2 separate regions of the Homo sapiens genome follow, and region 2 is linked to region 1. Evidence: fine-mapped expression QTL. A gene starts in region 1. The other region holds a variant in brackets. All regions are shown on one strand. Distances are between the middles of the regions.

What was found.
Region 2: its variant is fine-mapped to the expression of STRADA in whole blood (TOPMed, PIP above 0.99).

Annotation. Positions count from the first base shown.
Region 1 is chr17:63,731,457-63,746,460 of GRCh38, reverse strand. STRADA (STE20 related adaptor alpha) reads left to right here and starts at 4,662. Exons shown (of 13, transcript NM_001003787.4): 1 at 4,662-4,720. It overlaps CCDC47 (coiled-coil domain containing 47), which reads left to right. Exons shown (of 13, transcript NM_020198.3): 13 at 1-1,206. RefSeq lists silencers at 4,380-4,499, 6,003-6,171 and an enhancer at 6,037-6,536.
Region 2 is chr17:63,700,116-63,715,119 of GRCh38, reverse strand. It overlaps STRADA (STE20 related adaptor alpha), which reads left to right. Exons shown (of 13, transcript NM_001003787.4): 5 at 1,012-1,114; 6 at 1,593-1,714; 7 at 4,284-4,392; 8 at 4,506-4,629; 9 at 7,702-7,873; 10 at 8,381-8,485; 11 at 10,538-10,779; 12 at 11,073-11,115; 13 at 11,369-12,288. The coding sequence ends at 11,521. It overlaps LIMD2 (LIM domain containing 2), which reads left to right and starts at 14,995. Exons shown (of 5, transcript NM_030576.4): 1 at 14,995-15,004. It overlaps LOC729683 (a long non-coding RNA gene), which reads right to left and starts at 14,782. Exons shown (of 1, transcript NR_046273.1): 1 at 12,435-14,782. RefSeq lists silencers at 4,497-4,791, 13,017-13,096, 14,287-15,004 and enhancers at 13,517-13,616, 13,412-13,996, 13,997-14,582. The variant C/T (reference allele first, on the strand shown) is at 7,415.

The sequences.
Region 1 (15,004 bases):
AAACCAAGATTCTGCAAATAATGATTGGAATTGCACAATAAACATTGCTTGATGTTTTCTTGTATGTCTACATTAAACTTGAGAAAAAGTAAAAATTAGAACACTGTATGTAGTAATGAAATTTCAGGGACCCAGAACATAATGTAGTATATGTTTTTAGGTGGGAGATGCTGATAACAAAATTAATAGGAAGTCTGTAGGCATTAGGATACTGACATGTACATGGAAAATTCTAGGGACAGGAGCATCATTTTTTCCTTACCTGATACCACGAACCAGTGACAACGTGAATGCTGTATTTTAAGTGGTTGTATGTTTATTTTCTTGAGTAACAAATGCATGAAAAATTAATGCTTCACCTAGGTAAGATCATTGGTCTGTGTGAAATCACAAATGTTTTTTCCTTCTTGGTTGCTGCAGCCTGGTGGATGTTCATGGAGAAGCTCTGTTCTCTATATTATGGCTGTGTGCCGTTGCTTCTCCCTCTGCTTTTATCTTTTCCACAGTTGAGGCTGGGTATGTTCTTTCAAAGAAATGGCCATGAATATGTGTAAGTATACTTTTGAAAATGAGCTTTCCTAAACTATTGAGAGTTCTTTCCACCTCTTGCGGAACCAACTCTTGGAGGAGAGGCCCATGTATCTGCACGAGCACTTAGCTTGTTCAGATCTCTGCATTTTATAAATGCTTCTTACCAAGAAAGCATTTTTAGGTCATTGCTTGTACCAGGTAATTTTTGCCGGGGATGGGTAAGGGTTGGGTTTTCTGGTGGGAGTGGGGTGGTGGGTATTTTTTGTTGATGCTTTAGTGCAGGCCTGTTCTGAGGCAATAACAAGTTGCTGTGAAAACAGCATGTGCTGCTGCCTTTGTAACTGCATGGAAACTTTTCACATGGGTTTTTCTCCAAGTTAATACAGAAATATGTAAACTGAGAGATGCAAATGTAATATTTTTAACAGTTCATGAAGTTGTTATTAAAATAACTAACATAAAACTTAATTACTTTAATATTATATAATTATAGTAGTGGCCTTGTTTTACAAACCTTTAAATTACATTTTAGAAATCAAAGTTGATAGTCTTAGTTATCTTTTGAGTAAGAAAAGCTTTCCTAAAGTCCCATACATTTGGACCATGGCAGCTAATTTTGTAACTTAAGCATTCATATGAACTACCTATGGACATCTATTAAAGTGATTGACAAAATCTCAGAGTGCCGCCTTGACTTTGTGGAGTTATCCTACAAGAGTATAAGCTCAGAGGAAAATTCTTTCTGTTCGATAAAAGTCAGCACTGAAATGCTTTTCCTTCAAAAGAGTTCATCTGAATATTCCTTTTGTTATTACCATTCAATCATTTTAAAAACATTTTATATTTTTAGAGCCCCATATGTTATTTATGGGCTCCTCCCTGCATTCCACCTCTTAAGACTCCATTAACTCTCCTGTGAATGCGAGGACAAAGAGAGGAGGATGTTGTTTAGTGTCACAAACTGGAAAACCACTAAGTCTCCAATCTCATTTGCATTGCCTGGATGTTTAGCAATGCCAAAATAAGCACTGGACTGTAAGACAAAGACCTGGCTTTTAGTGCCAGCAGAACTAATTACTAATCCTTTGACTTTCGGCAAGTTATTAACCTAATGTGAAGTGAGGATAGTAATTATTTGCCCTGCCTGCTTCACAGGTAGTTGAACACTAAGAGAAAATATATATGTGAGATTGTTTTGTAAACTGTTTAAGCACTTTGCAAGTATAAGGCATCATCTAGGACTGGTCTCCAAGTGATGCATTCTTGCTTTACTCTCTTTTGCTTTTCTTTCTCCCAATGGAAACCAAGCAGATCCTTTCAGAGTTCTTTATCTGCAAAAATTGATAGGGTATTTTTTGAGGAAGAGGGGAGTAGCTTATGATTCTGTTTCCTTAGTAGTAGCAAACCTTTTCCTGTAAAGACCAGATGTGAAACTCCTCTTTTTTTTGTTTTTGAGATGGAGTCTCACTGTGTTGCCCAGGCTGGAGTGCAGTGGTGCAATTTCGGCTCACTGCAACCTCCATCTCCCAAGTTCAAGCAATTCTCCTACCTCAGCCTCCAGAGTAGCTGGGACTACAGATGTGTGCTACCACGCCCTGCTAATTTTTTATATTTTTAGTAGAGATGGGATTTCACTGTGTTAGCCAGGATGGTCTCGATCTCCTGACCTCGTGATCCACCCACCTCGGCCTCCCAAAGTGTTGGGATTACAGGCGTGAGCCAGTGCGCCTGGCCCTAACTCCTTTCTTTAGATGGAATTTAGACCAAAGAAAAACATTGATTTCTTATTCCACCCATTCAGTAGGAATTGGCAATTCAGTAGGAATTGTTTAGAATTGTGTTGTACAAGAATCCAGTGGATTTGGCAGGAAGAGGTGAAACACTGTGCTTTATCATCCCAGGTTCTCATTCCTTACCATTCCTGCCTCCTCTCATTTTGAATGATGTGAAACGATGTAAGAGAGACAAGAGGCCGGGCGCGGTGGCTCATGCCTGTAATCCCAGCACTTTGGGAGGCCGAGGCAGGCAGATCACATGAGGTCAGGAGTTCAAGACCAGCCTGGCCAATATGGCAAATCCCCGTCTCTACTAAAAATACAAAAATTAACCGGGTGCGGTGGCACAAACCTGTAATCCTAGCTACTCAGGAGGCTGAGGCAGGAGAATCGCTTGAACCCAGGAGGCAGAGGTTGCAGTGAACCAAGATTGCACCACTGCACTCCAGCCTGGGCAATAGAGCAAGACTTCCGTCTCAAAAAAAAAAAAAAAAAAAGAGTTATACCCATAGGAGTGTCTTCTGTTACAGACTGCTAAAACAGAACAGTTCTGAGACAATATGTTTTCTCTACCCATTTGTAATGGCTGCAAGAAGTTTAGCATCTTTTCAGACAGTCTCTCTAATACTCGGTTCCAAAAGACCACATGTGAAAGACCCTTCAGTAGAACACTGCTAGAAATTTTACTTCTCTGTTTATACTCTGTTGCTTTGTGAGTTTACCAAGTTTGCTCCTGAGAGTGGCATCTTATTTTGAGAATGAGAGCATGTGAGGGTAGCCCTTAGCAATGTCAAAGCACTCGATAAAATCAAAATGATGTGGCCCAGCACAGATGGCTCACACCTGTAATCCCAGCACTTTGGGAGGCCGAGGCTGGTGGATCACCTGAGGTCAGGATTTTAAGACCAGCCTGACCAATATGGTGAAACCTCGTCTCTACTAAAAATACAAAAATCAGCCAGGCGTTGTGGCGTGCGCCTGTAGTCCCAGCGACTTGGGAGGCTGAGTCAGGAGAATTGCTTGAGCCCAGGAGGCAGAGGTTGCAGTGAGCCCAGATCACGTCACTGCATTCCAGCCTGGGCAACAGAGCAAGACTCCATCTCAAAAAAAAAAAAAAAAAAAATCAAAGTGATGTATGTAAGATCAAATGAGAACTCATGTGCATACAGGTCCCACAGTTTCAGGGGCATATTTCTTTTTTTCTTTTTTTTTTTTTTTTTTTTTGAGACGGAGTCTCGCTCTGTCGCCCAGGCTGGAAGTGCAGTGACGCGATCTCTGCACACTGCAAGCTCCGCCTCCCGGGTTCAGGCCATTCTGCTGCCTCAGCCTCCATAGTAGCTGGGATTACGGGCGCCTGTCACCACGCCCGGCTAATTTTTTTGTACTTTTAGTAGAGACGGGGTTTCGCCGTATTAACCAGGATGGTCTCGATCTCCTGACCTAGTGAACCACCCGCGTCGGCCTCCCAAAGTGCTGGGATTACAGGCGTGAGCCACCGCGCCCGGCCTTCCAGGGGCATATTTCTATAAGTCCCTACTTGGATGTAGCTAAACTCCTCCCCCAGTCTTGGAAGTTAGGACGGTCTAAATCTGTGTCAAAGCTCAGAGCTGGCAAGAGCGAGTGTTCATTACCTGATGGTATATATCCGCGTTTTGGATACCCCCTCCTGCGCACGCGGGGGATAAGTCACTGAAAAACCTAGTCTCACAGGAGTGAGGCTTAGTTCATCGCTTCCTCATTTCTCAAGCTCTGCATAACCTGGCTTGGACAAACCTGATAGGTTTCCACAAACGGCTTCAGCTGTGGATGAGGAAGGCTTCGGGGGAAAAAAAAAGATACTGAGGGGACAAGATCGTTTTCATTAGTTGAGCTATTTTCCTTGTTTTACAAATAGTGGGGAGCAAAGAAAGGATGGGCTTCCCCTTTGCAGCTTGTTGTCTGGTGCCCGAGAGGCCAAAGTGAGGGGCATTTGAGATGTCGTCCAAGAAAAGTGCGAGGCGGGTTTTCCATTAGAAGTCCTACCACATGAAATGAGAAAAACACAATTCTCAGGAACAGCCAAGTTTGCCTTTCTCTGGTCCTTCATTGTTGAAGCCACCTGCTTCCCCCTCCTGCTGCGGGGGCGGAGGCTGTAGGCGGAAGCGCTGCGCGGCGGGAAAGACAACGGGAACTGAGAACCGCTCTCGGCGCGGCGGCGGCTGCTAGGGCCTGCCGCAGCCGCGGCCACTCGGAAAGGGCGGGACTTCCCCGCAGGGCGGGGTGGGGCGGAGCGCTCTATCAGTCCTCCCGGTCGCCCCACTGCGCATGGCACGTTGCGTACTCCCCTCCCAGCAACCGGTCTGGCGGCGGCGCGGCAGTAAAACTGAGGAGGCGGAGCCAAGACGGTCGGGGCTGCTTGCTAACTCCAGGAACAGGTACCTGCCTGGCGGGGTGCCTGGTACGCTGCCGGGGCCAGTCCCTCCTGGCTCTGCCACCGATTCCATCTCCCCAGGCCCGGGCCTTCGTCGGAGCGGCCATCCTGGGCTCACCTCACCCTCCACGGGCCCCCTTTTTAACCCGCGTCCTCGACTCCCGCAATGAGGCGCCGCAGCCCGAGAGCAGAATAGGCTTGGGCCTGGCGGGGAGACGCTGAAGCGGAGTTGCCGGGCGAGAGAGGCGGGCTCCTGCTTTCCCCTTCCTCCCCACCCCCTAGGACTTCCAGGTGGGGAACCTAGGGCTGGGTGCCGGTTTGTCCTGTTCAGGCAGAGTGGCGGCCGACCCCGGTCCTGGGCTCCCCGCTGTCCCCAGCCGCCGCGCACTTTGGGCTGACAGGCAGCGGGTCAAGTCCTCGTAAGGACACAAGATCCAGATGACTCCCAGAATCGGCCTAAACGAAGAGCTCATTGTCTTTTTGTTTTCCAGAAATGTTTTTTGGGTGCCTGCAGGGGATTTGGGCGCCGGAGATGGGGGTTGGGGATAAGGAAGAGAGCTCGAGGGAGGGGCAGTGGGTAGGTAAAATTGTTCATAGTTCTCAGGAAATAGGGAACTAACCTCTCTGCCCAGCCTTCTCCTGTATCCTAACATACTTTAACTTGACTTTCCCGGAGAAAGAGCCGTTGGAATTTGCCCTTTTCTTATTGTAATATCTGTTCAAGTAGAAGCATGTTCCAATACGTATATGCGACGTTAAGACAATTCTTCATTGACACTCATACCTTCCTGAAGACACCCAGGACTGTTTCTTGTCCCTGAGAGTTAAGGAAGAAACCAAATTTGATCACCTGCCAAAAGCCTGTGAATTCAGCCTTTAGTTACAGTGCTGAACTGGTCAAATCTGTCCCCTACTTTTTAATCAGATTTCTTAGAGGTGTTTTGGCTGGAATGCAGTGTTTATAGTTGTGGCCCCAGAAATGGAGGAAGTTTACTCTGGTTTTTAGAGCGCAGGCTTTGGAACAGATTTAATTAGTCCCCTACCACTTATCTGTGTGACTTTGGGCATTTAACCTCCCTGCACACCTGAATTTCCTGATCCGTAAAACAGAGATGATAATACTTGTGAGCTGCTCATGAAGCATTTAGCACAGTGCCTGACACGTAGGAAGTTTGCCATAAATGTTTGCTGGGTTTATTATTTTCTCTCTTTATTTTTATTTTAATTTTTTTGAGATGGAGTTTCGCCCTCGTCCCCCAGGCTGGAATGCAATGGCGCGATCTCCGCTCACTGCAACCTCGGCCTCCTTGGTACAAGCAGTTATCCTGCCTCAGCCTTCCGAGTAGCTGGCATTACAGGCACCCCCCACCACACCTGGTTAATTTTTGTATTTTCAGTAGAGACGGGGTTTCACCATGTTGGTCAGGCCGATCTCTGAGGTCCTGACCTCAGGTGATCCACCAGCCTCGACCTCCCAAAGTGCTGGGATTACAGGCGTGAGCCACCGCGCCCGGCCAATAAAGCTATTTCTATGTCTGTCCACTAGTAATATTGCTTTGTTGTGTGTGTGTGTGTGTGTGTGTGTGTGTGTGTGTGTATATATATATATGTATGTGTATATATATATGTATGTATGTATATATATATATATATATATAGTGTTAAATGTTTCTGATAGGCTGGGTACCGTGGCCCACCTCTGTAATCCCAGCACTTTGAGAGACTGAGGCAGTAGGATTGCTTGAGCTCCGGAGTTTGAAACCAGGAACAGGTACCTGCCTGGCGGGGTGCCTGGTGCACTGCCGGAGCCAGTCACTCCTCGCTCTGCCACCGATTCCATCTCCCCAGGCCCGGGCCTTCGTCGGAGCAGCCGTCCCGGGCCATATAATTATGTACATTATATGTATATACATATAATTATGTACATTATATGTATATACATATAATTATGTACATTATATGTATATATGTACATATATACATAAATATATAATGTATCAATATGTATACATAATATATACACATAAAATTATATATGTATACATATTAATACACTATGTACATATATAATATATACATATATGCATAATATATAATATACACATACATATGTATTTCTTAATTTTTGATAAGTGTGGATATATCTTTCGAATGATATCCATCTGCCCTCCCCTTCCATTAGAATTTACATTTTAAGGACATTTACATTTGCATTTTAAGGAAATTTGAAGGGAGCAGAGTGATGATGTTAATGTCATACAGATAACCGGGCATGGTGTAATCCTAGCACTTTGGGAGGCTGATGCAGGAGGATTGCTTGAGTTCAGGAGTTTGAGACCAGCCTGGGCAAGTTCATCTGTACATGATTCAATCTGAAAATAGAAAAGTCCTTCATAATTTGTATACCATTTACTGCTAATCACTAGGTAGAGCTACTCTAAACCAGCTCAGATGAAATTTATTAGTAAGATTTTATCAAAGAAAATACCTGTGTGCAGTTATTAAAATAATTGTATAGGGGGCTATAAAGAAAAATACCAGTCTCATCTCTATCTCTCTCCATCCCTGTGTCTATTTCCCTTTTTTTTTTTTTTTTTTTTTTTTGAGATGGAGTCTCGCTCTGTTGCCCAGGCTGGAGTGCAGTGGCACGGTCTTGCTTCGCCTCCCAGGTTCACGCCATTCTCCTGCCTCAGCCTCCCAAGTAGCTGGGACTACAGGCGCCCGCCACCATACCCGGCTAATTTTTTTTGTAATTTTAGTAGAGATGAGGTTTCATCATGTTAGCCAGGATGGTCTCGATCTCCTGACCTCGTGATCTGCCCGCCTCTGCCTCCCAAAGTGCTGGGATTACAGGCGTGAGCCACCGCACCCGGCCTGTTCCCCATTATTATTATTATTATTATTATTATTTTGAGATGGAGTGTCACTCTGCAGCCCAAGCTGGAGTGCAGTAGCACAATCACAGCTCACTGCAACCTCCTGCCTCAGTCTCCCGAGTAGCTGAGACTACAGGTGCATGCCATCACACCCTGCTAATTTTTTGTATTTTAGGAGAGATGGGGTTTCACCATATTGCCTGGGGCAGTGTGGAACTGCGGAGCTCAGGAGATCTGCCTGCCTTGGCCTCCCAAAGTGCTGGAATTACAGGCAGAGCCACTGGGCCTGGCCTCAATTAATTTAATCATTTTTTGTTTTAGTCCTTTAATGATGGACTTCTGTAATTCTAAACAACATGTTTAGACTTTCCACTGACAGGAGAGACAGAGAAATGACTAGTGAAGCTTCTCCTTATTTTTCCAAGAGAGTAAAGGTCATGCTGAATCTCACACCACCCCCTCCTCACTGCCTCCCAACTTTTTCTTTTTTTCATTTTCTTTTTCTTTTCTCTTTTTTTTTTTTTTTTTGAGTCGGAGTCTCGCTCTGTCGCCCAGGCTGGAGTGCAGTGGTGTACTCTCGGCTCACTACAACCTCCGCCTCCCGGTTTCAAGCAATTCTCCTACCTCAGCCTCCCAAGTAGCTGGGAGTACAGGTGCCCGCCACCATGCCCGGCTAATTTTTGTATTTTTAGTAGAGACGGCGTTTCACTATATTGGCCAGGCTGGTCTCGAACTCCTGACCTTGTGATCTGCCCGCCTCGGCCTCCCAAGGTGCTGGGATTATAAGCGTGAGCCACCGTGCCCAGCCCCTTCTTTTCTTTTTTCTTTTCGTTTCTTTTCGTTTATTTTCGTTTTTCTTTTCTCTTCTCTTTTCTTTTCTTTTCGACGGGGTCCCTCTGTGTTGCCCAAGCTGGAGTGCAGTGGCTCAATCTCAGCTCACTGCAGCCTCCACCTCTGGAGCTCAAGTGATCCTCCCGTCTCAGCCTCCTGAGTAGCTGGGACCACAGGCACATGCCACCACACCTGGCCAGTTTTTTTATTTTTTATAGAGTTGGGGTTTCAAACTCCTGGGCTCAAGTGATCCACCCACCTCTGTTTCCCAAAGTGCTGGGAACACAGGCATGAGCCACTGTACCCAACCAGCACCTCCAAACTTTTGATAGTTGAATCCCTCTATTTTTACACTTGTTGGTTACCTTTGTAACCTTAAATATTGTACATAACTTTCTATTTGTTATCCTATCAACTTTCAGTATTAACTTTACCTTCTTAGGAAGATAGGGGTATTAGCTTCCCCAGTCATTCCTCTATCTCTTCCCTGTTCCATTTCCCATCTTCTGTCAGGTGAAACTTTACTTTCATATTATCAAATTTGAAGGCATTTACATTGTGTTCTATAACTGTAATTAAGTTTATCATGCTTTGTCTATAGACTTAAAATTTATAAGCTGATGATGAGCACTTAACAGTATTGTAAGTATTATTCACAAAACAGCCAAGTGTTATTCTGCACTGCGGTCCACTGTCCTAACTTCCTTCTCATTCAAGGTCAAGTGGATTTTCTTTCTCATTCCTTGCTGAACTATCTCAATTTTTTTTTTTTTTTTTTTTTTTTTTTTTGAGATAGAGTGTTGCTCTGTCACCCAGGCTGGAGTGCAGTGGCATGATCTTGACTCACTGCAACCTCCGCCTCCCAGGTTCAAGCGATTCTCCTGCCTCAGCCTCCCCAGTAGCTGGGACTACAAGCATGTGCCACCATGCCCAGCTACTTTTTGTATTTTTAGTAGAGACAGGGTTTCACCATGTTGACTAGACTGGTCTTGAACTCCTGACCTCAGGTGATCTGCCCTCCTCAGCCTCCCAAAGTGCTGGGATTATAGGCGTGGACCACTGTGCCCAGCCATGCTATCTAAAAATTGTAACACATTTAAGTTTGTTTCAAATTCGGACTTTGACTTTTAAAATATAGTTTTAATTTCTGTTGGAATTTTTGGTTGCCTTTCTGCTTGATTTTTTTTTGGTGGGGGGGGCGTGGGGGGAAGAAATAGGCCACTTTCCACCCTGTCCGTGATATTTTTCATCCTTTATAATCTGTATATTTCATGATATTATTATATTTTCTTCAACCTGCCAACTTCATGTTCTAGTTTTGACTGATTCCTTTCTTGATCAGCTTCGTAGCTATCATCTTGAGATATCTCTTCAGTGGACACACCACTTTATTATTATTTTTTTTTTCTTGGGGCAGAGCCTCACTCTGTCACCCAGGCTGGAGTGCAATGGCGTGATCTTGGCTCACTGCAACCTCTGCCTCCCAAGTTCAAGCAATTCTCCTGCCTTAGCCTCCCGAGTAGCTGGCATTACAGGCACCTGCCAACATGCCTGGCTAATTATTGTATTTTTAGTAGAGACAGTGTTTTGCAATGTTGGGCAGGCTGGTCTCAAACTCCTGACCTCAGATGATCCACCCGCTTCAGCCTCCCAAAGCTCTGGGATTACAGGAGTGAGCCACCGCGCCCGGCTGGACACACCACTTTTTATATCTCATAGCTTCCTTTTTAAATTTTAGCCTCATTTTACTGGAATATTATTTGGAGTACATTAAAATAATTTCATTAAAAACCGTGTATGGGGCTGGGTGCAGTGGCTCATGCCTGTAATCCCAGCACTTTGGGAGGCTGAGGCGGGTGGATCACCTAAGGTGTTTGAGACCAGCCTGGCCAACATGGTTAAGCCCCGTCTCTACTAAAAATACAAAAATCAGCCGGGCGTAGTGGCACATGCCAGTAATCCCAGCTACTCCGGAGGCTGAGGCAGGAGAATCCCTTGAACCCAAGAGGCAGAGGTTGCAGTGCGCCAAGATCGCACCATTGCACTCCAGCCTGGCCTGGGCGACAGAGCCAGACTCCGTCTCAAAAAAAAAAGAGGAATAGAAAAGCTGCTGACTGGGAGCTCTGTGGATTTAAGACTCATGGACATGAGTGGGCAGTTACGCCAGGGGCTTGTTTTCAGCCCCACTTCTCCTTCCCTCATTCCTTATTGCGCAGTTTTGTTTCAGAACCCCTTAGGATTGTCTGCTGGGCATATCTGCCGTCTCCTCTACTATACTCTCCATTCACATTCTAGCCTGCAGCTTTCTCTCCATTTCCTGAGACAGCACCCTTATGTCCACTTTTCAACTCCTAGAAATTTATTGAAATTTCATCTAATAGCTCCTCTCATTCTGTCCTCAGATATATGGTTATTATTTGTATTCCTTTGCCTTAATTGGGACCTTGGGAGAGAGGTGAGATTCTAAAATCTTAAATCAGAAACCTGAAATCTAATCTTTCTAATTCTCTGAAAAAGTTAATTTTAAGGTCTCTCCTAGAAACATAAGCCATTATTATAAGCATCACTATCAGAGGGAGAAAGATATTTGTCTCAGGTGTCAGACGGATGTCATTAACCTCATTTTAGAGTTATTAACGTTGAGATTCGGCAAGCCAAAGTATGCTGATCAAGTTAACACAGATGCAAGAACGCAATTCATACCATGCTCGTCTTATTTCAGAGTATGTGCTTTTTTTACTACGCCATATTGTCACCCTTAAGTATAAATCTCTGACTTCAGGTTACTCTTAATGAGCCTTTAGCCATGTTTTAACCTTATTGATTATTCTTACGATTTGTATAGTAACATTATGGGTGAAATTAGCTCACTCTTTTTTTTGAGACAGAGTCTCGCTCTGTCACCCAAGCTGGCGTGTGCAATGGCACGATCTCGGCCCACTGCAACCTCTCCCTCCTGGGTTCAAACGATTCTCCTGTCTCAGCTTCACAAATAGCTGAGCTTACAGGTGCCCGCCACCATGCCTAATTTTTATATTTTTTATTAGAGACGGGGTTTCTCCCTGTTGGTCAGGCTGGTCTTGAACTCCTGACCTCAGGTGATCCACCTGCCTTGGCCTCCCAAAATGTTGGGATTACAGGTGTGAGCCACCGTGCCCAGCCAAATTTGCTCTTTTCTAGATGTTAACCTTTCCTAATAGCTTCTATTTTTCTAAATTAATCTTTACTATCTTTGAAACATTTCCAAGTTCTTTGTGTGTCTTTACCATTTTCTTACATAGGACTGAAATACACATGTGGTAAATGCTGTTAGGGAAAGATTAATTTGGTCAAGGTTGAAGTTAGTTTGGCAAAAATTCAGAAAAAGCAAAAGTATCCCTGATTCTTTTTTCTTTTTTTTTGAGACAGGGTCTCACTCTGTCATCCAGGCTGGAGTGCAGTGGCGCAATCTCGGCTCACTGCAACCTCTGCCTCCCGAGTTCAAGCGATTCTCAGCCTCCCAAGTAGCTGCAATTACAGGCCAGTGCCACCATGCCCGGCTAATTTTTGTATTTTTTATAGAGATGGGGTTTTCACCATGTTGGCCAGGCTGGCCTCTAACCCCTGACCTCTAGTGATCCGCCTGCCTCAGCCTTGCTAAGTGCTGGGATTACAGGTATGAGCCACCGTGCCCAACCTATCCCTGATTCTTAATCCAGAATGACATTTCCTCTGCCTCTTCTCATTTAGTGAACACAGTAATAAAAGCATTTTTAGAACATTCTTATTGAAAACAGTGACAAGTTTCTTAGAGCTTTTGATATAAAATAAAGGCTATTCAAGTACAGTTCAGTAAAAATAATTTTATTGGAGGCAAATAGAGTAAGACCTAGGCCTGTAGCCATCCATTGGCCAGCCTTAATCCAGGAATAGATTTAGAACATTTAAAATAATTTCCTTCAGGTATCCCTGTATTGGAGGTTCCCAAGAACACCCTCAGGTTCAGTAATTCACTAGGAGGACTCACAGCACTCAGCATATAGTCACATTCATGGCTAGGATTTATTTCAACAGAAGAATACAAAGAAAAACCAGCAAAGGGAAACAGCACATGGGGTGAAGTCTGGGGGAAACCAGGAGCAAACTTCCAAGGATCCTCCCCAGTAGAGTGACACAGGACTCAAAGCAAGAAGTTGTGGTAGCATGTGTGAAATGTTATCAACCAGGAAAGCTCATTAGAAACTCCATACCCAGGATGGTCATGTAGGCAGCCTGTGCCTGGCATGTATCAAAACTGGACTCCCAGAAGGAAAGCAGGTGTTCAGCATAAACCATACTGTTTGTACAAATAGTTTAGGCATAATAAGCCACTCTTGTCATTTTTAGGAAAATGGGAAATCTCTCAAAATCCAAGTTCCCCAATGCCAGCCAGTGGCTAACCACGTAAGCAGACTTTTTAAAGGATAAGAAGTTAGGCCTGCTATATTAACCCTTCTTCTGCAGAATCCCAGTCTGTAAATACTATTTCTTTAAATTGGTCTTTTGAGAGATATGGGAATGGGAGTGGGTTGAAGATTGTATTCTTTGAGCCAGTTCCACTTGAGATGAAAAATAAGATAAACAAGAATAGAAAAGCAAAGATAAAAGGAAGAAGAAAAAGCAAGAGAACTGAATACAATTTTTAAAAGGAAATAAAAAAAAAAGATTGTATTCTGACAAATACCAGGATTACTGCTGTTTTATTGTCAGTTATATATGACCCATATGTCTTAAACATTTAGTAGTGAACATTGAGGAGTCTGATAAAGATTCATACCTGAACAGAAGGGTATCCTATCTCTTTGCAAAAGTGTGTCTAGCTTGTGCCCATTGGCAGGCCCAAAATCTTCTTAGGAAATGGTTTTTAGTTGGAAGGCCGAGGTGGGCGGATCACCTGAGGTCAGGAGTTTAAGATTAGCCTGGCCAACATGGTAAAACCCTGTCTCTACTAAAAATACAAAAAAACTAGCTGGGTGTGGTGGCGGGTGCCTGTAATCCCAGCTACTTGGGAGGCCGAGGCAGGAGAATCGCATGAACCTGGGAGGTGGAGGTTGCAGTGAGCCGAGACCACACCATTGCATTGCAGCCTGGGCAACAGCACGAGACTCTGTCCTTCCCCAAAAAGAAAATGGTTTTTAGGCTGGGTGTGGTGGCTCATACTGTTAGTCTCACCACTTTGGGAGGCCAAGGTAGGAGAATCACTTGAGCCCAGGAGTTCAAGACCAGCCTGGACAACATAGTCTGTTACCTAGGCTGGAGTGCAGTGGTGCGATCGTGGCTCACTTCAACCTCTGCCTCCTAGGTTCAAGGTATCCTCCCACCTCACCCTCCCAAGTAGTTGGGACTACAGGCACATGCCACCATGCCTGGCTAATTTTTATATTTTTGTAGAGATGGGCTTTCGCCATGTTGCCCACACTGGTCTTGAACTCCTGAGCTCCAGAAATCCATCTGCCTCAGCCTCCCAAAGTGCTGGGACTACAGACATGAACCACCACGCCCGGCCTACACAAGCAATTTTTTTTTTTTTTTTAACTAGCCAGGCAGCTTCTCACACCTGTGGTCCCAGCTATTCAGAAGGCTGAGGTAGGAGGATTGCTTGAGCCCAGGAGGTTGAGGTTGCAGTGAGCCGTGGTTACACCACTGCTTTCCAGCCTAGGTGACAGAGCAAGACCCTGTCTCCAAAAAAAGAATGGTTTTTAATATGCCACTATTGGCCAGGTGCGGTAGCTGACACCTGTAATCCTAGCACTTTGGGAGGCCGAGGCGGGTGGACTGCCTTAGCTCAGGAGTTTGAGACTAGCCTGGGCAACATGGCAAAACCCCGTCTCTACTAAAAATACAAAAAATTAGGCCAGGCGCGGTGGCTCACGCCTGTAATCCCGGCACTTTGGGAGGCCGAGGCGGGTGGATCACAAGGTCAGGAGATCGAGACCATCCTGGCTAACATGGTGAAACCCTGTCTCTACTAAAAATACAAAAAAAAAATTAGCCGGGTGTGGTGGCGGGCGCCTGTAGTCCCAGCTACTCAGGAGGCTGAGGCAGGAGAATGGCGTGAACCTGGGAAGCAGAGGTTGCTGTGAACCGAGATTGTGCCACTGCACTCTAACCTGGGCAATAGAATGAAACCCTGTCTCATAAAAAACAAAAGAAAGAAAGAAAATTTGATTTTATTTTTAAATTCCAAAATTTTTCCAGACCATAGAAACTTTTTTTGCAGATAAAAACATCTATCTGCCTCTTTACACTAATTTTCTCTTTCTATTGTAGACTACATGAGGATATGGACCTTTTTTCCTCTTAAATTTCTTTTGCATGATGCTTTGTGTTTAATACTATTAAATATGCATTCTAATCATGTTTTTTCAAATCTATATTTTTAAAATTTTGTGACAAGATAAATGAGTGATTCTCAGCTGGGGTTGGAAAAGGAGCTTCTATAAGAATATCAGGGCCGGCCAGGCGCGGTGGCTCATGCCTGTAATCCCAGCACTTTGGGAGGCCAAGGCGGACGGATCACGAGGTCAGGAGATCGAGATCATCTTGGCCAACATGGTGAAACC
Region 2 (15,004 bases), 31 kb after region 1:
CAGCTCGTGCTCTTCTGGGTAGTGCTGGGTCAGGAGCCTCTCATACTTTCACAAAGGACTTTTTCTGCCTGGAGGTCAGGTTTATGAGTGCAGCACATGAAACATGAGCTGGCCCAGGTTTCTCCATTTCAGTTAGATGTGCATCTAAAGAAAGAGAATCTAAAAGAAAAGCAGTCACAGTCCCTAAATCATACACATAAATTTAGGTGTGGAAGAAGGAAACAGTCCATTAAGCTGAAAGAAGAGCTGTTGGTCTGCCGTGTGTTTTGCACAAACTCAGACATGGCTGGACACCTTCCTCTAGGACCTTAGAGGCCAGAGTTGTGACACATCCTAAGTGGCTGGACTCCAGCTTCACTCACAGCACACGTGGGCAGGAACGAGGGAGCAGGCCATGTCAGCTGCCTGGACGATGCCTGAGACCTGACAGCTCTGTGCCTTGCCTGCAGCTCAGGGCATCAGGGTTCTCCCACTTCACTTGGAAATGTCAGGCAATGACTGGCCCGGGCTCTTGGTTTGCTAAAGAGGGGGCTACTCCTGGCCACATTTTCCCTAGAGCAAGATTCAGCGTTTGACCTTTTGGGATCTTGTGGTGAGGACCTTAAAAATAGGATCCTAATGCATCAGGAAATTCATGAGAACCCCTACCTCTCCACCTGCTTCTCTTTTCCAAACATGCTTTCATTCTCTAGACATCCCTTCTCCAAGTGAGAATTTCATAGCTTTTAGCAAATGCATTGATTGTTGGAAAGGACAAGCAGATTAACATTTGATGGGAACAGGTCCTTGTCTCCTCATTTGTAGACAACCCTAACACTTGCTCTGATATTAGTGCTGATTACTACCCTGAATGTAGTGTTTTGTTTCTCTTCAAATAGTGCTGGCACTGAGTCGGGATTTGTGTGTGTGTTTAGATGCCAGTCTCCTCGTGGGTCTGAATTACCACCTTCACCCCACTCCCATCCCACCCCCAGTTTTCTCTACTAACCTATTTTTCTTTTTCTTTTTTAGACCAATGATGCGAGCTCAGAGTCAATAGCATCCTTCTCTAAACAGGAGGTCATGAGTAGCTTTCTGCCAGAGGGAGGGTGTTACGAGCTGCTCACTGTGATAGGTATGTGCAGGGGCCGTCCTTACTCTCCTGCTTTCTGCTCCAGGGGCTGCTGCAGCTTTCTCAGCAGCCCCAGATGTGTGTACAGCAGAGGCCATCCACTAGTTAGGAGGATTCATGGGCACAGACTTGCTTCTGTGGGTCTTCTCTGTTTTTTTATGCCAAGTATGGGAAGAGATCAAACTTCCAGGAAAGAAGCTCTTTTGCCATCTTTCCTTTGTGGCTGCCATGTTTCCGGTGTCCTGGCCATAGTGAGTCAGAAAGGTTGGCTGAGAAGGAACTGATGAGAGAAAAATCAAGAAATGTGAGCCATGAACATAACAGTTAAATTCTGCTGGGAAAAGGAAAAAAAAAAAAGTAACAGTAGTGAAAAATTTAACATTAAGTTTCTTTTGAAATCAAGTCCCTTTTTTAAAGGAAAATTTTCTTAAAACCTTTTGTTGTTCTTGTCCTTGCGTATGGCATTCCCTTTTTCTTTTAGGCAAAGGATTTGAGGACCTGATGACTGTGAATCTAGCAAGGTACAAACCAACAGGAGAGTACGTGACTGTACGGAGGATTAACCTAGAAGCTTGTTCCAATGAGATGGTAACATTCTTGCAGGTAATAAACCATGAGTGTGTCACATGGAGGGAGGGTGGGCTCTTGGCTCTGATAGGAATTACAAGGAATTACAAAGAAATGAAGGGAGACTAAACGTTCGGAAGTTATGGAAGCTTTCAGTGGAGAATCCTGGCCATTTGGCACTAAGGATTGGGCTGAAATGCTGCTCAGCCTAATTTATATTTCCCTTTTCTTCTCCAAACACTCCCTTCTGGCTTTTTTATTCATTTATTTATTATTTAGAAAGAAGCTAAGTAACTTGCTCATGGCAGAGGCAGGATTCAAACCCAGGCCATCTTGTTCCAGACACAAGGTGCCTGCCCTGCCACCAGTGGCCATCTTCTGGCTCTCAGCCTCCTGTTTGCCTGATGTTCCTTTCTTTTTCTTTTCTTTTTTTTTTTTTTTGAGACGGATTCTCACTCTGTCACCCAGGCTGGAGTGCAGTGGCACGATCTCGGCTCACTGCAACCCCCACCTCCCAGGTTCAAGCGATTCTCCTGCCTTAGCCTCCCGAGTAGCTGGGACTATAGGCGCACACCACCATGCCCGGCTAACTTTTGTATTTTTAGAAAAGACGGGGTTTCTTCATGTTGGCCAGGCTGGTCTCAAACTCCTGACTTCAGGTGATCTGCCTGCCTTGGTCTCCCAAAGTGCTGTGATTACAAATGTGAGCCACCGCATCTGGCCTCTTTTTTTTCGAGACAGGGTCTCATTTTATTGCCCTGGCTGGAGTACAGTGGCAGGACCACGGCTTACTGCAGCCTTAACCTCCTGGGCTCAAATGATTCTCCTGCCTCAGCCCCCCAAGTAGCTGGGACTATAGGCACACCACACCTGACTAATTTTTGTATTTTTTGTAGAGACAGAGTTTCACCATCTTGCCCAGGCTGGTCTCAAACTCCTGAGCTCGAGCAATCAACTCACCTCAGTCTCCCAAAATGCTAGGATTACAGGTGTGAGCCACTATGCCCAGTCCTGACATTCCTTTCTATTCGAGAAGCAAGTAGCCACTCTCTCGTTAAACTGAGAGAGGGGGCAGGCATGGTAGCTCATGCCTGTAATCCCAACACTTTGGGAGGGCAAGGCAGGGAGATTGCTTGAGCCCGGGAGTTTGAGATTGCACTACCAAACTCCAGCCTGGGTGACAGACTGAGTCCCTGGCTCAAAAAATAAAACAAAACAAAACGGAGAGAGACTGTGAGTCTAGTAAGTGCTTGGGAGTTAGACTCTCCTTTCCTGATGCCAGCTTAGAGTCAGGGCCTGGGGCAGTTTTCCTTCAGTAGAGTTAGTTGCAGCCCCTCCCCTCCTTCATTTACAACTTTTTCTGAATTGGTGGTTACCTGATGGTGCTCTAGGACCTGTTCATCTGTTCATAGTAGTTTGGTGGGTCTGAGGATGGAGCAGAAGCCAGTCTCAGCTGGCCTTCTCCTCCATCAACTGTGTTTTCTTTTTCTTTTTTTTTTCTTTATTTGAGACAAGGTCTGGCTCTGTTGCTCAGGCTGGAGTGCGGTGGTGCAATCACAGCTCACCACAGCCTCAACTGCTCAGGCACAGGTGATTCTACCACTTAAGCTTCCCGAGTAGCTGGGACTAAAGGCATGCACCACCATGCTCAACTAATTTTTTGTATGTTTCATATAGATGGGGTTTCGCCATGTTGCCCAGGCTGGTCTCCAACTCTTGGGCTCAAGTGATCTGCCTGCCTCGCCTCCCAAAGTGCTGGGATTACAGGCGTGAGCCACCATGCCCGGCCATGTTTTCTTTTATAATAGAAACATAGTTTTGGGCTGGGCACAGTGGCTCACGCCTGCAATCCCAGCACTTTGGGAGGCCAAAGCAGGCCTAGGCAACATGGCAAAACCCTGTCTCTACAAAAAAATATAAAAAATTAGCTAGGTATGTTGACGTCCACCTGTGGTCGCAGCTACCAGCGAGGCTGAGGTGGGAGGATGACTTGAGCCTGGGAAGTTCAGGCTGCAGTGAGACGGGATCACACCACTGCACTCCAGCCTGGGTGACAGAGCAAGACCCTGTCTCAAAAAAATAAAAAAGAAAACATTTTTGGCCAGGTGCAGTGGCTTGGTGGCTCACGCCTATAATCCTAGCACTTTGGGAGGCTGAGGCAGAAGGACTGCTTGAGCCCAGGAGTTTGAGACCAGCCTGGGCAACACAGTGAGACCTTGTCTCTACAAATAACAACAACAAAATATTTTTTGTTTTCTTATCTTAAAGAGGAATTCTATACGTTGGCCCTTGAAATTGAGATAAGCTTATAACTTCAGAAGTCTTCAGTCAACAGTTTGCCTTCATCATCTCTGAGTCGGTGTGCTGGCACCCTTTGTTGTTGGCAGTTTCCCTATCTGGCAGAGGCAAAGCAGTGCTGGGTCCCTGCAGAGGCAGCAGGGCCTTGTTTTTCCTATGTTGGCAGGCACCTGCTTAGGCTGTTCCCATGACTCTGAGAACACCCAGAAAGTGCCAGGTCCCCCTATTGTCCATGCTGCCATCTTTGTGTTGAGCGGCATCCTTCAGTGCCATTTGGTTCTGACTTCAGCTTCATCATTGCTTCCAGGGCGAGCTGCATGTCTCCAAACTCTTCAACCATCCCAATATCGTGCCATATCGAGCCACTTTTATTGCAGACAATGAGCTGTGGGTTGTCACATCATTCATGGCATACGGTGAGTGGGAAAGGGTTCTTGGTAGAAAGGGGTTATTGGGACTCTGTTGTCAGATTGCCTGTGTTTTCCTCCTCCATTACCTTTCACTGCCTCCATGCAATCCTTTTCTGCAGGTTCTGCAAAAGATCTCATCTGTACACACTTCATGGATGGCATGAATGAGCTGGCGATTGCTTACATCCTGCAGGGGGTGCTGAAGGCCCTCGACTACATCCACCACATGGGATATGTACACAGGTGCGTTCTTAGGCGGCCTTTCCCATGATTACAGTGGGTAGCTATGCCCCTGAGCCTTCAGGTAAAGTGAAGTTTGACTGAAGTTAATGAAGCCAGAGTTTAAAATCAAGGATCTGGATTCTTGCTGAAGATCTCTTTGCTCTGAAAAGAAACAGGGCCCAGCGCGATGGCTCACGCCTGTAATCACAGCGCTTGGGAGGCCAAGGCAGGTGGATCACAAGGTCAGGAGTTTGAGACCAGCCTGGCCAACATAGTGAAACCCTGTCTCTACTAAAAATACAAAAATTAGCCGGGTGTGGTGGCACATGCTTGTAGTCCCAGTAGCTGGGACTACAAGCTGAGGCAGGAGAATCGCTTGAACCTGGGAGGCGGAGGTTGCAGTGACTGGAGATCACACCACTGCACTCCAGCCTGGGTGGCAGAGTGAGACTCTTGTCTGAAAAAAAAAAAAAAAAAAAGAGAGAAGGATCTGGATTCTGACCTTGCCACTGACTTGGGAGATGGTCACTTAGCCTGTTAGTGCTGAAGCCACTGACTTTCTCTTTGCTGAGCAGCTTGGTCTTGAGTGTTGTGTGAGAGGAACATCTGATGTGGACCTTTGTACTCCACTCTCTGCCTCCTTCTTTCTGTGCCCCAGAGTCAGTCTTATGCTGAGAGACCAGGGCGAAGACAGATAGCTTAGTAGATAGTGTCAGGAAATCAGCTCATAGTAGGGAAAATGGTAAAACTGGACCCCTACATAACTCCTCATACAGAGAAGGACTGCAGCTGGATTAAAGGCTTCTATGTAAAATGTGAAACTGTAGACTTAAATAGAAGGAAATGTGAGAAAATGTTTTTGTGACCTGAGGCATGTAATAATTTCTCAACATTTTAGAAGCACAAAACATAAGACAAAAGATTGATGAATTTGATTAGATCAAGAAGATTTCTATCCAATACAAGATACCATGAAAAAGGTTAAGAAACAAGTGACAGAGCAGATGATATTAGCTTTGTCACCACAGGAGATTAGTAACAGGGAAATCTTGCAAATCAACAAGAAATGGACAGCAAAGCAAGAAAAATGGGCCAAAGATATGAAGTTTACAAAAGAGGAAACCCCAAGACAAACCCATCATAGGAAGAGCCACTCAAATCTCGCAATCAGAGAAAAGCAAATGAAAAACAAGATGTCACCTTATACACATGAGACTGGCAGCGGTTGGGAGGCTGGACGAGTCCCAGTGTGGCAAGGACGGGGAGCCTCCTGTCCAGGTGGTGGAAGATGCCCGGTGCTGCCAGTCAGGGTCACAGAACCAGAACCATCAATGCCACTTCTGGATGTACACCCTAAAGAAACCCTCGTGCAGACCCATCAGGGGACATGTTTGGATGTCACCATTCACACGTGTGTTGGTTAGGGGTAGTGTGAGTGTCTGTCCCCAGAAGGATGGATGAGTAAAAGTGTTAGATCTCTTCCCAGAACCAAGGTGACAATTAGAAGAAAAGATGAAAGGTACACAGCTAGCAATACAGATGTGTCTGGAAACTACAGCCCTGAGTGAAAAAGGAAGAATGGGATGCGGAACACAGTACCCCTAGGTACACTTTACAAGAGTCCTACAGATAAGAAGTACAGATTAAAAGCATTCGTAGGAGGTAGGGCAAGAGGTGTTCTAGAGCATACAAGAGCACTGAACAGTCCCAGCACTCTGGGAGGCCAAGGTGGGTGGATCACCTGAGGTCAGGAGTTCGAGACCAGCCTGGCCAACATCGCAAAACCCTGTCTCTACTAAACATACAAAAATTAGCCGGGCATGGTGGCAGGTGCCTGTAATCCCAGCTACTCAGGAGGCTGAGGCAAGATAATCACTTGAACCTGGGAGGTGGAGGCTGCAGTGAGCTGAGATCGTGCCATTGCACTCCAGCCTGGATGACAGAGCTAAATAAGCTTTTAATCTGGTGATATGTAAATGGAGTCATGCTATTTTATGTAGATTTGAAGTTTTTCATTAAAACATAGTTATAGCTGGATGCAGTGGCAGCACTTTGGGAGGCCAAGGGGTGGATCTCTTGAGGTCAGGAGTTCAAGACCAGCCTGGCTAACATGGTGAAACCCTGTCTCTACTAAAAATACAAAAACTGGCTGGATGTGGTGGCATGAGCCTGTAGTCCCAGCTGCTCAGGAGACTGAGGCAGGAGAATTGCTTGAACCTGGGAGGCAGAGGTTGCAGTGAACTGAGATTGCGCCACTGCACTCCAGCCTGGGCGACAGAGTGAGACTCTGTCTCAACAACAACAACAACAAGAACAAAAAACCTGGTTATAGGCCGGTCACGGTGATTCACACCTGTAATCCCAGCACTTTGGGAGGCCAAAGCAGGCGGATCATTTAAAGCCAGGAGTTCAAGACTGGCATGGCCAACATGGCAAAACCCCATCTCTACTAAAAATATAAAAATTAGTTGGGCGGGCCCAGCGCAGTGGTTCACACTGGTAATCCTAGCACTTTGGGAGGCTGAGACGGGTGGATCACGAGGTCGGGAGATCGAGACCATCCTGGCTAACACAGTGAAACCCTGTCTCCACTAAAAATACAAAAAAAAAAAAATTAGCCGGGCGTGGTGGCGGGTGCCTGTAGTCCCAGCTACTCGGGAGGCTGAGGCAGGAGAATGGTGTGAACCCGGGAGGCGGAGCTTGCAGTGAGCCGAGATGGCGCCACTACACTCCAGTCTGTGCGACAGAGCAAGACTCCGTCTCAAAAAAAAAAGAAAAAAAAAAATTAGCTGGGTGTGGTGGTGCA[C/T]ACCTGTAATCCCAGCTACTTGGTTGGCTGAGGCACAGGAATTGCTTGAACCCAGGAGGCAGAGGTTGCAGTGAGCCTAGATTGAGCCACTGCACTCTAGCCGGGTGACAGAGTGAGACTCTTATCTCAATGAAAACAAAAACATGGTTATGTATATGTAAAATACACATATACGTGTATAACACACGCACACAGGAGAGAGCTGGCCAGGTGGAGTGTGTGAAGACCAAAAATTTGTAGCAGGAGGGGCTCCTGCTCTCGACATGACACCCTCCCCGCTTCCCCAGGAGTGTCAAAGCCAGCCACATCCTGATCTCTGTGGATGGGAAGGTCTACCTGTCTGGTTTGCGCAGCAACCTCAGCATGATAAGCCATGGGCAGCGGCAGCGAGTGGTCCACGATTTTCCCAAGTACAGTGTCAAGGTTCTGCCGTGGCTCAGCCCCGAGGTCCTCCAGCAGGTCTGTGTGTGGGCCCAGAGGAGCTCCCCTACCCAACTCATGATTCCCAAGGGAGCCTTCAGGCATTGCCTGGAGTCGGGGGCTCTCAACCTCCCAGTGGGGTAAAGGGGTTCCTGGAGGGAGGGAGCCCTCAGCGTGGGCAGCGCCTGTCCACTGCAGATGGATGTGGTTCCTCCCAGGGGGTCCTAACCTCTATTGGATGAAATTTCAGCTCCCTTTAGGGACCCTTGGCACCCTATGAGAAGAGTGAGCATTTTGGAAATGTTTGCTGCTCTCTGGATCCCTGTGCTAAGCAGGGGCATGGGGCTGGCACTTCCTGCTCCTTACAGAGCATCGCCAGTTACAGGTGGTAAAATACCAGTTAGTCTTCAGTAGCACAGGCAAGGAGAGTCATTAGCAGCAGGTCCTGATGTGGGGACAGCCATCCTTTTCCTCTCTTTAGTTCTACCCTTTTTCTAAGAACAAAGACCAAATGGGGTAATCTGTGGCCTTTTTTTTCTGGCTTAGAATCTCCAGGGTTATGATGCCAAGTCTGACATCTACAGTGTGGGAATCACAGCCTGTGAACTGGCCAACGGCCATGTCCCCTTTAAGGATATGCCTGCCACCCAGGTAAGCCTGCCGCCCATCGGTTTCCTTCTTGCCTGCTTGCCTTCCACAGATGTTCGTTGAGTAGCTCTCACACTCAGGACACAGACTAGGAATACTAAGATGAAAGACCCTGTCTTTTCCTTCAAGAAGTCCCACCCAGTGGGGGATAGTGACCTCACTCTTTGTTTACTTCCTGTGGCAAACCTGGTGGTAAGGGAGGCCAGCTTGGGGAGGGGAGCCCGGGAGCAGGGGTGCAAATGGAGGCCCACACGCTACATGTCTATTTAAAACATATACATTAAGCTAACTAGTTTTTATAAATGCATAAAATATGTTCTGTCCTCCTACTTGGATAAATATACCTGGAAGGTCAGTTTCTAATTTAGAATTCCCACAGTTCTTAACCGCATTCCAGCTGACACCTTTGGAACCCCCATTCTGTAAGTTCAGCTTCTGTTCATGACCCTCCAGATGCCTGTCCTTTGGCCACCCCTAGGATCCAAGGGTGCACAGTCAGTGGCACAGTCTACCCTTGGGAAAACAGACCCAGGGAAGAGGCTTATGCAAGCCTCATTAAATCCAGAAAATGGATTTGGGGTCATTTGGGCAAGGATTACCTGGGTCCCAGCTACTTGGAGTGTGGTCTGGAACTGGGAGGGGCAGGATGCAGGCTCTAATTAAGCCACTTCCGGAACCCACAGGCTGCTTGCCCGGTGGTAGGGGCAGCTGGAGGGTGGCCAGAGTGCAGCCCCCCAGAGCAGGGGCCCAGGGAAGTCCTGGGAGGAGGCAGCCTTGAGTTGGAAGGCAGACAGCAGTCACCTGTGTGGAGGAGGAACTAGGACACTCTTCTCGGCAGACAGCAGCATGTGCAGAGACCCAGAGTCTAGAAAAAACAGATCTGGAGAACAGCAAGGAGGTGTAAATGGTATAAATGGCCAAGGTGCAGTGCTTCTTGGGGACTGCCAGGTGACAGGCACAGAAGGAAGCAAGGGTACATTGTGAAGGGCTTTGATGCCACTTTAGAGCACTGGTTCCTGTCCTAAAGCCTGTGGAGCAGTGCTGAGGATTCTAAGCACAGGAGTGACAGCATAAGATGGCTCATTTACAAAGACCACCCCGGCAGATGGATTAGATCCAGTAGCTCAGTTAGGTGGGTATGGAAGTCTATGTGAGGAATCTAGGAGATCTCAGTAAAATAATTCAGTGACAGAGGATGCTCAGGAAAGAAAAGGTGACTGAGGAGGAACAAGAAGTCCAGGCCTAGAAGCAGCACCATCCACTAGAATTTGCTGCAGCGAAGGAGGGCTTCTGTGGCTGCACTGTCTAGCGTGGGAGCCATGAGACTGTGTGGCTGTCGAGCATTTAGAAGGTGACCAGTGAGACTGTGGGACTGAATTTTAAACCTCATTTAAATCGAAATAGCCACAAGTGGCTAGTGGCTATCACGTTAGTGCAGCTCTAGAGCAATTTCCAGGTTTCTGGCTTGGACAGCTTATGCGGTCATGAGGACTTCCACGAGGACAGCAGTCCCAGGTGGGGCTGGTTTTATATGTGTTGAGTTGGGGTACTTTGGAACAGCCACCCAGCCTGGCCTCCCCTTGGGCATCTTGCTCCCGTGTGGCCTGCTGCAGCGACAGCCCAGGCTGTGGCACTGCAGGGACTGCCTCTCAGACCTCATCGGATCCACCTGAGCATGGCAGACGGCTGGGCTTCAAAGCAGGTTCATCTGACTGCTCCTTCCCTCTAGGGTGAAGACTCTACGGTAAAAGGAATTTGATGCCTTGGAAAGGGAGAGCGGAAACTGTGAGCCCTGCTTTCCAGCCATGGCGAAAGCGGGTACTTTTGTGCAACCCCTCTCCTTTCACGTTGGCCTGGCTAGGGCGGAGCTGCCACGCCAGTGACCAGCGTTTCTTTGGGAAAATTGGACTTACTCCACTTCCACCTTTTCCACTCTTCAAATGATCACATTTGCATATTGGGAACAGTGTATTTGTGAAGAGACTCTCAGGCCTTCCAGGGACCACCCCCCCCCCCCACCCGCTACAGCCCAGGTCCTGGTTCTGTCCTCCCCAGATGCTGCTAGAGAAACTGAACGGCACAGTGCCCTGCCTGTTGGATACCAGCACCATCCCCGCTGAGGAGCTGACCATGAGCCCTTCGCGCTCAGTGGCCAACTCTGGCCTGAGTGACAGCCTGACCACCAGCACCCCCCGGCCCTCCAACGGTGACTCGCCCTCCCACCCCTACCACCGAACCTTCTCCCCCCACTTCCACCACTTTGTGGAGCAGTGCCTTCAGCGCAACCCGGATGCCAGGTATCCCTGCTGGCCTGGGCCTGGGCTTCGGGAGAGCAGAGGGTGCTCAGGAGGGTAAGGCCAGGGTGTGAAGGGACTTACCTCCCAAAGGTTCTGCAGGGGAATCTGGAGCTACACACAGGAGGGATCAGCTCCTGGGTGTGTCAGAGGCCAGCCTGGGGAGCTCTGGCCACTGCTTCCCATGAGCTGAGGGAGAGGGAGAGGGGACCCGAGGCTGAGGCATAAGTGGCAGGATTTCGGGAAGCTGGGGACACGGCAGTGATGCTGCGGTCTCTCCTCCCCTTTCCCTCCAGGCCCAGTGCCAGCACCCTCCTGAACCACTCTTTCTTCAAGCAGGTATCGTAGCCCCTTCGTTCTGGTTCTGGTTCTAGTTCTGGTTCTAACAACTCACAATCCCTTTAGCTTTCTCTCCCCTCCCTTTGAATGAGAGAAACTACCCCGCTTCCGAAGCCCCTGAAAGACACTGCTCCTTCCTCTCATGGAGTTGGCTCCGACAGCCCGTCTGCCACCAGGCCATGGTTCCTTGCCCCATGGTGTCCTGGGACCCAGAGCAACAGGATCTGTCACCCACCTCTCTCTTCTCCCCCAGATCAAGCGACGTGCCTCAGAGGCTTTGCCCGAATTGCTTCGTCCTGTCACCCCCATCACCAATTTTGAGGGCAGCCAGTCTCAGGACCACAGTGGAATCTTTGGCCTGGTAACAAACCTGGAAGAGCTGGAGGTGGACGATTGGGAGTTCTGAGCCTCTGCAAACTGTGCGCATTCTCCAGCCAGGGATGCAGAGGCCACCCAGAGGCCCTTCCTGAGGGCCGGCCACATTCCCGCCCTCCTGGGCAGATTGGGTAGAAAGGACATTCTTCCAGGAAAGTTGACTGCTGACTGATTGGGAAAGAAAATCCTGGAGAGACACTTCACTGCTCCAAGGCTTTTGAGACACAAGGGAATCTCAACAACCAGGGATCAGGAGGGTCCAAAGCCGACATTCCCAGTCCTGTGAGCTCAGGTGACCTCCTCCGCAGAAGAGAGATGCTGCTCTGGCCCTGGGAGCTGAATTCCAAGCCCAGGGTTTGGCTCCTTAAACCCGAGGACCGCCACCTCTTCCCAGTGCTTGCGACCAGCCTCATTCTATTTAACTTTGCTCTCAGATGCCTCAGATGCTATAGGTCAGTGAAAGGGCAAGTAGTAAGCTGCCTGCCTCCCTTCCCTCAGACCTCTCCCTCATAATTCCAGAGAAGGGCATTTCTGTCTTTTTAAGCACAGACTAAGGCTGGAACAGTCCATCCTTATCCCTCTTCTGGCTTGGGCCCTGACACCTAAGTCTTTCCCACGGTTTATGTGTGTGCCTCATTCCTTTCCCACCAAGAATCCATCTTAGCGCCTCCTGCCAGCTGCCCTGGTGCTTTCTCCAAGGGCCATCAGTGTCTTGCCTAGCTTGAGGGCTTAAGTCCTTATGCTGTGTTAGTTTCGTTGTCAGAACAAATTAAAATTTTCAGAGACGCTGCTGGAGAATGGCATTGTGTCTGCGTCAGCTCAGGGGCTACAGGCTGCTTCCTGGTGTGTGTGCTTGCAGGGATGGCCGTGCTGCCCCAGGTGAGAGCTGTCCCACCATCCAAGAGCAGGCCCATGGGTGCTCACTGAAGCTCAGCAGTGACCTCTTACACTAGATAGACCAGTTTATTTGAAAACCTGTAACAGATCTGTCTCTTAACTATCTAAAATTTTAAGACTATGAATTTTAGCCTGTGGTCATCAAACCACTTTGGAGCTAAAAAGTTCCAAAGATTGAGATTGAGGCAGAGGATGCTGGTGGCCTTTGGCAGGAAAGGAGGTAGAAGGGTTTGTCTTGCAACCGGACATGGGTGTCTCCTTACCCTGGGTGCTAGCACCCAAAGAGCAGGAAACCTAAGAACCAGCCCCGCCCATCCCTGCCATGCTGGCTGGCGCCAGCGAGTGTGAGCCAGGGGGTGCAAATCTGAGGCTCCCTGCAGTGCTTCCAGGGCACATGGCTTACCCTTCTCCCAGTCCCTCAGGGGGAAGGCCCTCCCCCAGCTCAGGCACCTCAAATGCCCCTCTAACCTGAAGCTGCACTGAACCATCAGGTGCCCTTGCTTTCCGTTTCCTCCCAAATTTTAACAGCAGTTTAAAGAAGAAAAGTAAGCCTCTTTGGGCAGTGAGAGGCTAAGGTGAAGGGAATGACACTGACCCTGGGCTAGGATGGGGCCTGGGGCGAGTGAGTGTCGGGGGCGGCGGGGAGCATTTCCGGCCCTCCTCCCCCTGCTTTAAACCTCAAGTTCCCTTCGCCTCGCCCCGCCCTCCCCCCCCCACACACACACAAACACAGAGTCTGTCGCCCAGGCTGGCGTGCACTGGCTTCATGTTGACTCACTGTAGGCTCCACCTCCCGGGTTCAAGCGATTCTTCTGCCTCAGCCTCCCGAGTAGCTAGGATTACAGGCACACACCACCACGCCTGGATAATTTTTGTATTTTTAGTAGAGACGGGATTTCACCATGTTGGCCAGGCTGGTCTTGGACTTCTGACCTCGTGATCCACCTGTCTCTGCCTCCCAAAGTGCTGGGACTACAGGCGTGAGCCACCGCCGAGCCAAGTTCCCTTTTTTTGTTTGTTTTTGACGCTGGTCATCAGTTTCCTTTGCTTCTGGATGCCTTCTGCACCTTGCTGTTGGGGCATCCTCAATGCCCATCTGCAGCTCAGCCCACAGGCCCGTCCTGGGCAGGGTGCCGGGGCCTCACCATGCCCAATGGCAGCAAGCCCTGCTCCTAGTACCCCCGGGGCTTCCCGTTTCTTGCATCAAACAGCCCCTTTGGAGAATCTGATGACAGGTGTGGAAGCTTTCCCGAGAGGCAGCCACTTTAGAGGGTCTGACGCTCCCCACTAGAGAGTCGGCCCACAGTGCAGACAAAACGCAGATCTTCCTCTAGAGAGAACAGAAGGCTGGAGAGGAGACGCGGAGCCGGTCCGTGGAGTCCGCCAGCCTGGGAAACAGCTGGTCGCTGGGGAAGCTGCAGCCTCCCTGCTCCCCTGCCAGGCGTCGGGCGAGAGCTGTTCTGTTCCCTGACAAGCGCGTGGGCCGCCAGTGCTATTCCTGCCACAGTGTGGGAAGGCGCTGGGCTAAGGGCTGTGCTTCCCGGAGCTGCTTCTAGCCTGATTTCCGGCCAAGCCACGCAGTCCCTGGTGCCCGGGAAGGCGCCGGCCTCGCCGCCGCTCCAAAGCGAGTGGCCGTCTCTCGCCGGCTGTGCCTCCGGCCTGCTGTGCGGCTGCAGGGAGGGAGCAGCTCTGCGGCCCAAGCTCTGTCACCTCAGCTCTCTGGGCCGCGGCTCCCACGTGAGAAATGAGGTGCGCTTGTTGGAGAGGGGGCCCCCGTTGCTGCCCACAGAATTCCGCCCCAGAAACGCTTGAGTACGTGGAGCCTCGGGGGACGGGTGCTCCGGGAACCACGCATACCGGCCTCCCCAGCCCGTCGCAGGGTTGCAGAGGCGCCGAGGGCTGGGGGGGCTGCCGGGGCTGCCGGGCCCTCGTGCAGGCTCCTCCCCGCAGCCTCGCGGCCGGGCCTGGAGACCGCGTGCCCGGACGCCGCCGCCAGCCTCGTGGGCCGCAAAGGGGCGGGGGCGGCCCCTGGCGGCGGGAGGACTCGGCCGCCCGAGGGACCCCGGGCCAGGCTCCGGGGTCGCCCCGGCTGGGTCTCTGCGGCCCCACAGCTCTGGGCGGGGATGGGGGCGCCGGCGCCTACGCGCGAGGCCAACCGGGGGAAACCGAGGCAGTGAATGGCCCAGGCCCCGCCCGGTTATCCCGGAGCCAGGCCGGGAGCGCCCAGTGTCCCGCGACCGCAGCCGCCGCAGCCTGAACTCGTCCCCTCCCAGTAGGATGCGGAGCGCGGCCCTTCCATCCTGTCCCTGCCACCGTTGCTTCCCCACGCCGGGCCGCCGTCGGGATGGGCAGACGGCGCGGCCGGTACCCGAGGCCTGCGAGCGCGAGGCCCGCGGGGCGCTGCGGAGCCGGGAGCGCGGAGCCGGGGCGGGGGACAGACAAAGGCGGGGACGGCGGCGAGGGGAAGACAAAGCGCGGAGGGGGGTCGGCGGCGGCGCCGGGGCCCCGAAGGCGGCTCCGGGCGCGGCGGAGCCAATGGGCGGGCGCGGGGCGGGGGCCGGCGGGGGCGGTGCAGCGATAAGGCGGTGGCGGCGGCGGTGGCTCGGGGACCACTGGT